Linked DNA regions of Homo sapiens. The protein of the gene in region 2 purifies or fractionates together with the protein of the main gene of each other region. This does not show direct contact. Each region holds a gene or a part of one and is shown on either strand. Other genes may lie near its edges.

Region 1 (3,500 bases), on a different chromosome or scaffold from region 2:
TACCCGAAAAGAGTTTGTTCCAGGCTCCATTTCATCACAAATCTTGTTCGGTGCTACAAGAGAAAGAAAAATTAGTACAAATTCCAGCCCAAAGATAAACTTATTTTATCCCCTCCTCCATTGTTAAGACAAGTTCCAAAGTTCCACAAAGTCCTCTAGCCTATGGGCCCCACTGGGTAAGGGATTCAATCCCTAGAGCAAAGCTTGCAGGTGCGTGTTTGCCAAAGGCAGGACTCACCACCACTCCTTGTGGAACTCCTGATTTTGGTTCTGTGTCTGTGGGTAAGAGAACTGAATCCATAGGGACAAGATTTGTAAGCTATACAAATCTCCCAAGTAAAACCAAGTACTGTAAATATTTACAGTTAAAACAAACAAGATACCCATTCAAATAATATAATTTTTTTTTAAACGAGATGGGGTCTTGCTCTGTTGCCCAGGCTGGAGTGCAGTGGCACAATCATAGTTCACTGCAGCCTTGAACTCTTGGGTAATCAAGCTATCATCCTGCTTCAGCCTCCTGAGTAGCTGGGACTGTATGTACATGCCACCATGTCCAGCTAGTTTTTTTTTTTTTTTTTGAGATAGAGTTTTGCTCTTGTTGCCCAGGCTGGAGTGCAATGGTGTGATCTCGGCTCACTGCCACCTCCACCTTCTGGTTTCGAGCGATTCTCCTGCCTTGGCCTCCCAAGTAGCTGGGATTATAGGCGCCCGCCACTACACCTGGTTAATTTTTTTTTTTTGTATTTTTAGTAGAGATGGGGTTTCACTATGTTGGCCAGGCTGGTCTCGAACTCCTGACCGCATGATCCACCCACCTCAGCCTCCCAAAGTGCTGGGATTACAGGTGTGAGCCACCACGCCAGCTGCCCAGCTAGTTTTTTTAAAAAATTAATTTTTTTTGTAGAGACAGGGGTCTCACTTTTTGCCCAGGTTCGTCTTGAATTCCTGGCTTCAAGTGATCCACCAGCCTCAGCCTCCTAAAGTGTTGGGATTATAGGCATGAACCACCGCTCCTGGCAGAATTTTTTTTTAAAGAGATGAGGTCTCACTCTTTTACCCAGGCTGGAGTGTAGTGGCACCATCATAGCTACTGTAGTCTCAAACTCCTGGGCTCAGGTGATCCTCTCACCTCAGCCTCTTGTGTAGCTGGGTCTATGGGTATATACCACTATGCCCAGCTCAAAATGACAGAACTTTTAAGCCTCAGATTTAACTGATATTTGACAGGTTGTGGTGAGGGTGGGAGAACAGAATGGTGGGAACAAGGAAAAGCATACGCAAAGGCTCCGAGGCAGGAATGCATTTGGCAATTGCAAGGAACTGAAAGGAGACCATTAGACTAGAGTACAGTCAGGGAGTGAGGGGCCTGGGGGCTTGAGCAGTGAGGACGGGACAATTGCACCTCTGGTCTTTCAGCACTAAAGGGGCACAGTCACTCAGGCCCTGAGCAATGCAGATTTCTCCAGCTGCTGCCAGAATTTTAGCCCTTTAAGAGCTTCTGAGAATATGAAACTGAATGAAACTGCAAGGTGAGGTATGCTTCTTATCTGGTGATCTCCAAACTGTCTATAGACCAAAGAGGATAGTAAGTCCCTGCTACTGAACAGAGTCGATCAGAAGACAAAGTTATAACGAAGACTAAGGCATTGCCTGTGTTGCTACTGTAAATATATTCTGTGGGGTAAGTCAAGCATTAGAAACAATTCCTAACAATGGCACACAAGATGAGCTGTGCTAGAGATCCTGCCCATACTCTGTAATTCCCCCAAATTCTGTAATTAAAGCAAAAAAAAAAAAACCACCCAAACGATTTATTACTGCATATGTCACCTTGCTCTGATACTACATCCAAACATTGCTAAATTACCAAGTCTTCTTTTGTTTTTTTGAGACAGGGTCTCACTCTTGTCACCCAGGCTGGAGTACAGTGGTGTGATCACAGCTCACTGCAGTCTCAAACTCCTGGGCTCAGGTGATCCTCCCATCTCAGCCTCCTGAGTAGCTGGGACTTCAGGCATGCACTACTACCACATCCGGCTAATTTTTGTATTTTTTGCAGAGACAGGGTTTCGCCACGTTGTCCAGGCTGGTCTCGAATTCCTGAACTCAAGCGATCTGCCCGCCTGGCCTCCCAAAGTGCTGGAATGACAGGCGTGAGCCACTGCGCCCAGCCCCAAGTTTTCTAAGTATGATATAAAAGAGCCAGACAACCCAGACAAAGACTGAAAGTCATCTTCGAGGGATAGGGAGAGATGACAAGAGAAGAAATGAAGGTTTCTTGAGTAATTATGATATGTTAGGGACTGATACCTTTTTTCCCACTTAATCTTTATAATTACTCTGCAAATGTAGGGCTTGATCGTCTGAAGTTCAGCTATTTTAAGTAACTTTCCCAAGGTTAAAAGCTAGTTTTTATTAAGTTGAGATGTGAATCCAGGTCTGGATGACTCTAAAGTCTATGTGATTTTTCTTATCACATCACTCTGCCTCCTCTAAGATGCCAAAAATGCCAGATTAGGCACTAATAATTTTAAAAGACTGTGTTTTTAGAGTGAAGTATTAATTTATCGTTTTATACATCTTAAAACATTTCATAGTAATTTAAAACAAAAATAGATCATGAAATAAATGATTTAGGTATTCGTAATTTCAAAAAGAAAAGTTGACTATATAAATGAGTAGACTAAAAGTATGTAAATTCTGGAAACTACATCTGGGTGAACAGATTCTCTGCTAGATCTCACCACTGTAGAATTTTGCTTTTAGCTATTTGAAAAAGGGGGTGTGGGATATAACACATGCACATGTAAAAAAAAATTATAGAAAGGTGTAAAAAAAAAAAATCTCTCCCATCATTTATTCCTAGTCTCCCCCAAAGGAAATCACCATTAAACTCCTGTTTATATCTCTAGAAACTTCCCTGTGCATATATCAGAATAAATCATATACATCCTTTAAAAATCCCTACTCAACTGGGTTCATTACCTACATTTTATTCTACACTTAGCTTTTGTCACTTAATATATCTTGGAGATCTTCCCACATTAGCACAAAAAGAGCTAACTCATTCTGTTTAATGGCCACATAGCTTTCTATTATATGGATGTATCGTAATGTAAGCAGTTCTCCTCTTACAGAATTTCAGTTGGCAGGGGTTGTAAAATCACAAGCAATGCTACAATAGATATTTTTGCATAACTATCTTGCATACCTTTGGAAATATTTATAGCTTAATTTCTACCAGTGGAACTGCTGGGTTAAGGGGCTGTGCATTTGACATAGCCTTGAACTCTTGGGTCATCAAGCAATCCTTCTGCCTCAGCCTCTCAAGCAGCTGGGTCTATAGGCATGCCACCATGCCTGGCTAATGTTTTTAAAAAATTTTCTGATACATATTACCAAACTACTTGCCAGAAAGCCTGCACCAAGTCACACCCTCACCAACAATCAATGACAGTGTCTACTTAGCACACTCTTACAAGACTGGATATCATTTA
Region 2 (2,815 bases):
GGAGCTGGACTGAGGACCAGGCCCTAAGAAGGTGCCTCCCGCACAACCACAGGCCCAGGCGGGCCACGGAAGACGCTGCCCGGGCCCTGCGGAGGGCTGGGGCTGGGGCTGGGGCTGGGGCTGGGGCCGGGGCCGGGGCCGGGGCCGGGGTTGGGGTTGGGGTTGGGGCTGGGGCCGGGGCCGGGGCCGGGGCCGGGGCCACAGACTTCACTGCTGGACATGAATAAAGTCCACGGTCGTGGTCCTGCCTGTGTCTGTGCTCAGGGCCTGAGCAGGGGGGCCCGGGAATGTCCTAGCCGGGGCCAAGCCTGTGGGGACAGGGGCACAGGACTCCCACCACCGGCTCCTGGGGCCACCCTGAGTGCTGGCCTGGCCCTCAGCACAGTGGCAGCAGGGTCAGGAAGACCTCCAAGGGCCCCCACCTGGCCTGGGGGCGCAAGACCAGAGGGAGAGGGGCCACGCTGGTGGGGTCACAGAAAGTCCTCGGAGGCCACAAGACGTGTCTGCAGGGGGCATGTTCCCGTTTACTGAGCGCGAGTTCTCTTGGGGTGGAACGGGGACCACCCGTGCCTGCTCCTGGCCAGGCGGGGATCCCCAGCAGGGCTGGGGCCAGCAAGGGAGTGGGGCCCTCAGGCCAGGGTGGAGGCTAGGAGCAGTGCCAGGACGGTGAGAACAGGTCCAGGTCCTAGGAGGCAGGGCGTCCCCGAGAGGGCCTCTACAGAGAGAGGGGTGACTCAGAGCGCCCACCTCCACGCCCCCAGCTCTGCCCCCAGCCCTGGCCTGGCCGCCCCGCCCACCTTGCATGCTGAGGTCTAGGACCAGGTAGCCGTTGGGGATGCCGCCCTGTAGCCCCAGCCCCAGCGTGTCCAGGTCGTCCTGCCGCTGCCGTAGGATCCAGTCCCGCACCGGGCGGTGCCGCTCCTCCGCCTTCAGGCCCTCCACGTGGGGTCCCAGAAGTTTCTGCACCTCAGCCACAGTCAACGGCTGCCAGAGACCCCGGGCAGCCATCAAGGAGGGTCTCCTTCCCTCAGCGCCGCCAGAGGGCTGCCAGGCTCTCCTGTGTCCAAACTGCCCCACCCACAGATGCCCACCGCAGCCTCTCCAGACTTCGGAGGTCTCCGGCCAGCTGACCTCAGCTCAATGGCTGCCCTTCCCTAGGCCCCACCACACGGGAAGATGCTGCCCTTCCTAAGGCCTCGCCCCACTGCAGACCCGCCTTACACGCCCTCCCACCCCCCGTTGGCCCCTCCTCCATGCGCCCCTCCACCAGGGCTTCTCCACTTGCCCCCCCCTCCATGTGCCCCTCCTCCACGCGCCCCCTCCACGCGCCCCCCTCCACACCCCCCCATGCGCCCCTCCTCCTCCACGCGCCCCCCTCCACGCCCCCCCACACGGCCCCCTCCACGCGCCCCTCCTCCACGCGACCCCTCCACGTGCCCCCTCCACGCGCCCCCCTCCACACCCCCCCATGCGCCCCTCCTCCTCCACGCGCCCCTCCTCCACGCACCCCCCTCCACGCCCCCCCATGCGCCCCCCCCACGCGCCCCCCTCCACGCGCCCCTCCTCCACGCCCCCCACGCTCCCCCCTCCACGCGCCCCTCCTCCACGCGCCCCCCTCCACACCCCCCCATGCGCCCCTCCTCCTCCACGCCCCCCCACACTCCCCCCTCCACGCGCCCCTCCTCCACGCCCCCCACGCTCCCCCCTCCACGCGCCCCTCCTCCACGCGCCCCTCCTCCACGCCCCCCACGCTCCCCCCTCCACGCGCCCCTCCTCCACGCGCCCCTCCTCCACGCACCCCCCCACACGCCCCCCCTCCACGCGCCCCTCCTCCCACTCGCCCCTCCTCCACGGGCCCCTCCTCCACACGCCCCTCCTCCCGCTCGCCATACCAGCACCGCATCCGTCCGCAGCTTCATGAACGTGGCCAAGTCCATGCTCACATTCTGCTGACTGAGCGCCTTCAAATCCTCCGTGGGGGCCCCACCTGCCCGCCGGGAGAGGGGCCCGAGCTGAGGCCTCACCTCACACCCCCAGGCCCTTGACCACAGGCTGCAGGAAGCCCACTTGCCTTACAGGGCTTCCCTTTTTCCTTAGGGATTCCAGGGCCTGGGTTTGCCTAGCCGCCTGACCCCCAGGCGTGGGAGACCCTGGAGGTGGCTGGCGCCCCGAGCTGGGGTCAGAACCCACAGCCCCTAAGGCCATACACACCCCGGGGGGCAGAGGGCGGGTGACCACCCAGTTACCCTGGCAGCAGACGGCCCGGCGAGGCAAAGGCCTGGCACCCCCGAGTGGAGTCTGTGCTTCCCCCGTTGTGTTGCCCACCCTGGCCAGGGACTCCCTGGCTCACCCAGGAAGGACTGGATCTTCACGAAGTATTCGGACCCGTTCATGTTCTGGAAAGCAAGGCGGGCCTTGGGATAGAGGACGTCCAGCTGCCTTGGGTCACACGTGTCCAGGTCCTGGGGCCTGACCGCCCTGGGGACACGGTGGGTGGACAGTGAGCGCCAGCACACGGACCCACCTTGCCGGGCAGAGTTCTGGGGACTCACCAGATGCTGCTGGGGGGCACGGAGCTCAGCTCCTCGGGGCTGAGGGAGCACAGGTACCCAGGGTAGAAGGCGGTCAGGGTGTCTAGGGTGTCTTTGTCTAGCTGGCCCCTTCCCTTCACAAAGCGGTCGATCAGGGTGGCCACCTGTGGGAGGGGCCGCCGAGGAGCCTTGTGGCAAGGAGAGATGTATCCCTCCACCACCAGCATAACCTCAGGCCGTGCCCCTGACCCCAGGCCCGCCCAACCTCAGGCTTTGTCCCCCAC
Region 3 (3,500 bases), on a different chromosome or scaffold from region 2:
ATAGGGATATGCTTTTATTTTTTCTATTTCATCTTTTTTCTCATCTGGTGTTTTTTCTTTAGCACCTTTTTTTGTTTTCTTTGCAGACCTTAAAAGAAAATAAAGTTGAGTTATATCAATATATATCCTAAGAGATTTTTTTTAAAAAAAAAGCCAGTGTACATAAGAGAAAAAAAAACAAAGGATGAATTATATTTTAATTCAAAAGCATAGACTGCTTTACAGTTTTTCTAATTCAACAAACATGAAGTGAACTTTTCCAATGTCTGAAGTCATGAATAAGTTGAATTACCGCACTGATGCTGCTCTCCAGAAACTTACAGAGGAGTAGATCAGAAAGACATACTAACAGGTCATTTCAATATAATGTAGTAATACAAGAGCATCATCAGAGCCTGACAGAAAAGACATTCAATCCAGCCTAGGAGGCTAGGGAAAAGTTATAGAGGAAATGACCTCAAAGTCAATTCTTAATGGATAAGGAAGTGTTAGCACCCCAAAGAAGTGAAAACATATGACACAAAATCTAGTACACAAATGTTCTTAGCAGCATTATTCATAACAGCCAAAAAGTAGAAACAACCCAAATGTCTATCAACTGATGAATGGATACATAAAATGTGGTATGTCCATATAATGGAATATTAATCAACAATTAATAAAAGAATGAAATATTGATCAATGCTACAACACGCATGAACCCTAAAAACATTAAGCTAAGTGAAAGAAGCCAGTCACAAAAGCCCACATATTATTCCATTTATACCAAATATCAAGAATGAGCAAACCTAAGAGACTAAAAAGTAGATCTGGTGGTTGTCTAGTGCTAGAAGAGGAGGTTAGGGGAACAAGAAGTGAATGCTCATGGGCATGGGGTTCTCTGGGAAAGCAATGAAAATGCTCTAAAACTGATTACAGTGATGGCTGCACAACTGTGAGTATACTAACAACCAATGAACTGTACACTTTAAATGGGTGAATTGTGTGATATGTAATTATATGATACCTTAATAAAGCCATTATTTAAAAAATAATAGAGTTAGCCAGGTAAAGAAACAACGTAATAAAAAGTACTGAGGCACAAAATAAAATGGTATAAGAAGGAAGCTATTATAAGTTCTACATGACTAGAGCAGAGTTGGCAAACTTTTTCTGTAAAGGACCAGATAGTAAATGTTTTAGCTTTGTGAGCCATATGTTCTCTGCTGCAATGACTCAACGCTGCCACTGTAGTGCAAATATAGTCGGTAAACAAGATTGGCTGACTCGCCAAAGTTTGCTGACTTCTGAACTAAAACGGTAAAAGAGAAGGCAGGCAAGAGTGGAAGATGAGGTTAGAAAAGACAGAGCATAGGGGGGCATCCTCTAGAGGCAATAAGAAGTCAGTAAACAGGAGTAACATCTGTATTTTAGGCAAGGTATTCTGGCTGCAATATAAGAGAGAGACCTGAAGGAAGTAGGATTGAAAACAATTAAGAGTCTGTTCCCGCCCTTTCTTCTCAGAGATATGAGAACCTGAACCAGAGTAGCAACAGTAATAAGACTGGAAAAGATGGCAGATTAGAGAATACTTGTCAAGCTAAATACTGGGCCAAGCACGAGGGCTCACGCCTGCAATTCCAGCACTTTGGGAGGCCAAGGCAGGAGGACTGTTTGAGGCCAGGAGTTCAAGACCAGCCTGGGCAATATAGCAAGACCCTGCCTCTACCAAATCAAAAAAATTAGCTGGGCATAGTGGTACACACCTGTGGTCCCAGCTACTTAGGAGGCTGATTTGGAAGGATCACCTGAGCTCAGGAGTCTGAGACTGCAGTGAGCTGATTATGTCAGTGCACTCCAGGTAGGTGACAGAGTGAGACCCTGTCTCAAAAAAAAAAAAAAAAAAAGTAAATATTGAAGATGGGAAAAGGAGAGAATAAAGACTCCAAAATACTTCCTAGGTATCTAGCTTGGGTGACTAGGCATAGAATAGAATCATTAACTAAGATCAGAAATAAAGAGGGCAAAACAGGTTTCTGGTGAGGGAGGCAGTCACAGAGATTAGTTCAAGTTTGGGGGATATGAAGTTTGAGTATGGGTCAATTGTATCATTGGTCCCAATTCTTTACCTCCTTTCCATTCAAGCCCTTTGCTAAATGACTTTGCTGTTCCTCCCACTAAAGAGGAGTATATTTCCCAGCCCCTTTATTTGTCCATGTGACTACTTTTGGCTGACAGAATAAAGCAAAGATGACAGTTTCCCTGCTCTATGCTTAGGCCAAAAGAAGTTTCACATGTTTCTACTTTCATGTTTGCATTTCTGCCTTTTCATTAGAAGAACATGCCTAGGCTAGCTCAAAGGTAGAAGGATGAGAAACATGTGGAACAGAGCTGCCTCCACAGAGCCCCAGGCTACATGAGATGATTCTCAGCTTACCTGCAAACTTACAGATGCACTACAAGTCCAGCCAAGGTCATCAGAGATATCCATCAAACCCAGCCTATGTCAGCTGACCCATAGATATGTGGGCAATGATAAATAATTGTGGAGTGGTTTGTTACATAGCAAAAGCTAACAAGGTGCTTACAAAATATCTAAGAAAATATATTTACCAGGTAATGGCAGATAAGAATTTGAAGATAAAAAGAACTAGAGGTGATGTAATTTTCTCAGCATTAATTCAGATCATGTCTGTACTCTTCTAACCATAAAAGTTTTAAATTAGTGTAATAGTATTCTGGAAAGATGTTCCGGTTCTGTGGTAGTCAGAATAATAATGCCTCAAAGAGACCCATATCCTAATTCCCAAATCTTGTGAATATATTACCTTACATGGCAAAAAAAAAAAAAAAAAGACCTTGCAGACGAGATAAGGTTAAAGACCTTGAGATGGAGAGTTATCCTAGATTATCTACGTGGGCCCAATCTAATCACATGCATCCTTAAAAGTGAGAGTCTTTTCCCCTTCCCAACTGCATCACACAGATATGGGAAAATGACACTGAAGAAATTCAAGCAACCAGCCATTGCTTTGAAGATGAAGGATGAGGGCCATGAGCTAAAGAATGTGGGTGGCCTCTTGAAGCTGGGGATTGCAAGGAAATGGATTATCCCCTAGAGCCTCCAGAAAATAAACTGCCAATACCTTGATTTTAGCCCAGTGAGATCCATGTCAGACTACTCGCCTACTGAACTGTGAAATGAAAAACTTGTATAGTTTTAAGCCTCAAAGTTTGTGGTAATTTGTTATGGCAGAGATGGCAATTTGTTATGGAAGAAAATGAATATGAAGTCCTATAAAACTGATGTGAAAGAAATGGATGATAATAAAACAGTTTTTTAAAAAAGACCTCAAAAACCAATTCAACGTATAATTCCATTCTCACTTTTAGTACTCAGTAAATCCTTACTACCACCACTAATAATAGTACCCTCCCAGCTAATGAGCAATTCAACAGAATATTAGATAATGACAATGCTCATTTTCAATGGGGCACAGGTGTCCTTCTGGACTGATGAC
Region 4 (3,500 bases), on a different chromosome or scaffold from region 2:
ATACCCAGTAATGGGATCGCTGGGTCAAATGGTATTTCTATTCTAGATCCTTGAGGAATCGCCACACTGTCTTCCACAATGGTTAAACTAATTTACACTCTCACCAACAGTGTAAAAGCATTCCTATTTCTCCACATCCTCTCCAGCATCTGTTGTTTCCTGACTTTCTAATGATCGCCACTGAATGAAGCTGTTAACAACAACTAACCTGCCACTCAGTCTCACCACTTGGAAGGTGAGACTGACTCAGGTGTTTGTAACTCTAGCACCTCTGGTCATATGTGTGTATATATAGTCATTAATTTATTTCTTAATAAATACCTACTAAGCTACTCTGAGTCAGGTGCTGCAGGGAAACCAATACTGAAAAAGCATAGTGTGATTGATGCTGGCAGAAACACGGCTGTAGAAAACCTGGACCTACTGGGTTCCGAGGTGAGAAGATGTTATTTTTTTAGAGTTAATAGATTGGTTTTACTAGCAACTTTGCTGGATGTCAGAGAAAAGTAATTCTACGGTATAAACTTCATATACATTTTGCTTAATATAATACTCCCTTTAAATACAGTTTTAGAGGCTATTACAGAATTTCAGAATAGGGAAGTACAATCTGGTCCAACTTCATTTTTGACATAGGAAAGTAAAAACCAAAAGGTAAAGGTTTTTGAATCAAGACAAATGTTTACTAAACATGTACTTACTATAGATTATATGCTATGAACTATGGCATATATAGGTACTGGGGATACTGAGACAGGAAAGGAATAGGTGTTAAGTGTGATACTGGAGCTGCAGCAAGGACATTGCATATATAGACGAGGAAGCAATGGATTTTGTGGATCACAGAGATGACCAGGAAGGCTAAAGGGAGGAGCTGATATTTATGCTACTGTTTTATTTATTTTTGCTACTCTTGCAGTTTAGACCACGTGGAGTGCCCACTGTAACCATTCAGACCTTTTCAAAAAAGCCTTTCACCAACAATATTGTTGGTGAGTCACTAGGGTCATTTTTATTTATGGCAGAGGCATTGGAGGTACGCCCTAAGAGTAATGAATCATCCTTATTTTCTATAATAGTAATAGCCCAAGATTCTTGCATGAAAATACCTTATTCTCTTGAAATATCACTTTGACTTTGGTGACTATGGTGATAACATTTATTCCATTACTTAGAACAAGACTTGCTACATTATAAGCACTCAAATATCTGCTGAATGAATAAGCATTGGCATTTATATAACTTTCAACATGTCTCCCACAATTACAAGCTACCAGAGTCTGCCATCCCTTGCATGTCATCATATATGAAATTTCTTCCTCATAGAAACCAACAAACTTTATGAATAAATCTATACTTCAGAGTTTCTCAATTACCTGCTTTTTGCAAAGAATGCTCTCTTAGAATAAGTTCTTGAGATTTTCAAGTGTGCATAAAAAGGAATGCTCTGTAAAAGCCTTGGTTTAGTTTTTTGCTCACCCACCTGAAATGCCCTCTTTCCTTATGTGTGAAAATCCTTCTTTTCTTCAAGCTCATCTATTTCATGAAGGTTTCCCAGCTTCTTTCCCCTCCCGGATCCTCTGCACTAACCACTGCCCATGTTCCTACTTTGTCACTAACTTGCTCTTGGTTAAATGCCTTATATATTCATCTAGGCTGTGTGAATCTTGAAAATAGAGGATACATTGCATGCTTCTTTTCTGTCCTCCATAATCAAGTAAGACACTTCACACAGAAATAAAAATATGTATCATTTAATTAAAGAACACTTGATTTATGCATGTAGTATTTGCAAGACCACGCAAGAACTCTATGCCAAATACCTCTTAAATATAGAGGAGCACCTCTTTCCCCTTCACCAAAACCACCTCCTCTAAAACCAAATGGATTCCAGATTTTAATTAAACAATAAATAATAAAAAATATTATATAACAATCTAATGTGCCCATCTACAGAGATATTATTTCTATTAAAAATTCATTCATTCTGAAGGTTCCCATGTAATAAGAAAAAGAAACAAAAAATTCAGTCTGTGCTATCAGGGCATCTATATTTTGAGGAGGATGGCAACGTGCCTACTGAGCATTACATAGGTGCTAAGAAACCATGACTAACAGAGAAAGATGTAAAACCTGAGTAAGCTCCATTATGTGCTCTAAGTATGAACTGTTATGGCAGTAGTAGTTTACACTAAAGAGAAATACTTCAGTAACTCATAGAGACTCTGGGTAACTGAAGCTGTCACAAAATCAAACTCCAATACAGGTGACACCGGGAGAGCTGTAAGACTATGCAAAGTATCCTAACTGTGTGTACATAACACAGTAGAGAGAGTCATATACTGATATCAAAAAGGGAATAAACACAATTAGAGACAGAGTAAAAGACTAACAAGTTAGAACCTCTAGTTGTCTACTTGTTTCTGGGGAAGAAATTGTTGTATAGTATGTCACAAGCAACAACATTACTCTAGGACATACCTGAAGTCAGCTGTAGCTGCAAAGGATTCCATTTCTGTAATAGAGAAAACACAGAGGAACCCCTCCCCACTTCGGAAGTAGTTGTCTCTAATTGCAGCGTAGTCCTCCTGCCCAGCTGTATCTAAGATATCGATCTGGACTTCCTCCCCATCTAGCACTACCTTCTTCCGATAGCTGTCTGCTTTGGTAGGCTCATAGTCCTCCACAAACTAGAAAAGATAAAAACACACCAATTTTTTAATTATTACGTTTCAAAACTTATTTTGAAATAATTATAAATTCATGTGAAGCTGCCAAAATAGTACAAGAAGAGTTCTGTATACCCTTTGCCCAGATTCCTCCAATGGTAAAAACTACACTAATTTTAATTTTAGACAATTTCTTGGTTTCCTCATTTGCAAACAGAGAGGGCTGAGTTATTACCTCTAGGCTGTTTACAGCTTGAAAACAGCTTTTCTTCCTTAAAACACAATACCTGCAAAAACTATTACACATATATTTTACCAAATTTATAATAGTCTTTTTTCTATGTAACTCTGAATATAAATTTTCATGCTAGAACTGTGGAAATAACTTAAAGGTCAATATTTTGGTAAGCACTGAAAGTATCATTAAATCCTTTCTTTTTCTAAAATGAACTAAGTCAATAAAGTGATTTACACTACTCAACAGAAAGTCAAATCTTAAACTTTATGAGACTTCTTCCCAAACTTTTGATTTTTTAAATAGTACAATTCAACAACTTTACATTCCCACTCCTATCGTCAGCCCCATAAATCTCACTTTAATATACCTTGATAAACCGTAGGCAGGCAGATGATAAGTATGTGTATATGTACGCAGACAAGGCCTTACTATGTTGCCCAGGCTGGTCTTGAACTCCTGGGCTCAAATAATCCTACTGCCTTGGTCTCCCAAAGTGTTGGGATCACAGGTGTGAGCCACCAGGCCCGGCCTATCTTTTGATATCATTGTTAGCATGTATTCATTTACACACAGACATTTGTGGGTTTTTTATT

Evidence for each region.
Region 1: the proteins of MSLN (region 2) and ZBTB43 fractionate together in Homo sapiens (co-fractionation; one large-scale study listed by BioGRID). This does not show direct contact.
Region 3: the proteins of MSLN (region 2) and MRPL1 fractionate together in Homo sapiens (co-fractionation; one large-scale study listed by BioGRID). This does not show direct contact.
Region 4: the proteins of MSLN (region 2) and RALA fractionate together in Homo sapiens (co-fractionation; one large-scale study listed by BioGRID). This does not show direct contact.

The regions. Positions count from the first base shown.
Region 1 is NC_000009.12:126,829,040-126,832,539, reverse strand, and holds part of ZBTB43 (zinc finger and BTB domain-containing protein 43), read right to left. Parts: intron 54-3,500; 5' UTR 31-53; coding exon 1-30. UniProt on the Homo sapiens protein: May be involved in transcriptional regulation.
Region 2 is NC_000016.10:766,548-769,362, reverse strand, and holds the end of MSLN (mesothelin isoform 1 preproprotein), read right to left. Parts: intron 2,720-2,815; coding exon of another isoform or gene 2,696-2,719; coding exon 2,553-2,695; intron 2,479-2,552; coding exon 2,351-2,478; intron 1,988-2,350; coding exon 1,893-1,987; intron 985-1,892; coding exon 798-984; intron 716-797; coding exon 630-715; 3' UTR 501-629; downstream 1-500. UniProt on the Homo sapiens protein: Membrane-anchored forms may play a role in cellular adhesion. Megakaryocyte-potentiating factor (MPF) potentiates megakaryocyte colony formation in vitro.
Region 3 is NC_000004.12:77,879,830-77,883,329, reverse strand, and holds part of MRPL1 (large ribosomal subunit protein uL1m precursor), read right to left. Parts: intron 89-3,500; coding exon 1-88.
Region 4 is NC_000007.14:39,689,572-39,693,071, reverse strand, and holds part of RALA (ras-related protein Ral-A precursor), read right to left. Parts: intron 2,691-3,500; coding exon 2,482-2,690; intron 1-2,481. UniProt on the Homo sapiens protein: Multifunctional GTPase involved in a variety of cellular processes including gene expression, cell migration, cell proliferation, oncogenic transformation and membrane trafficking.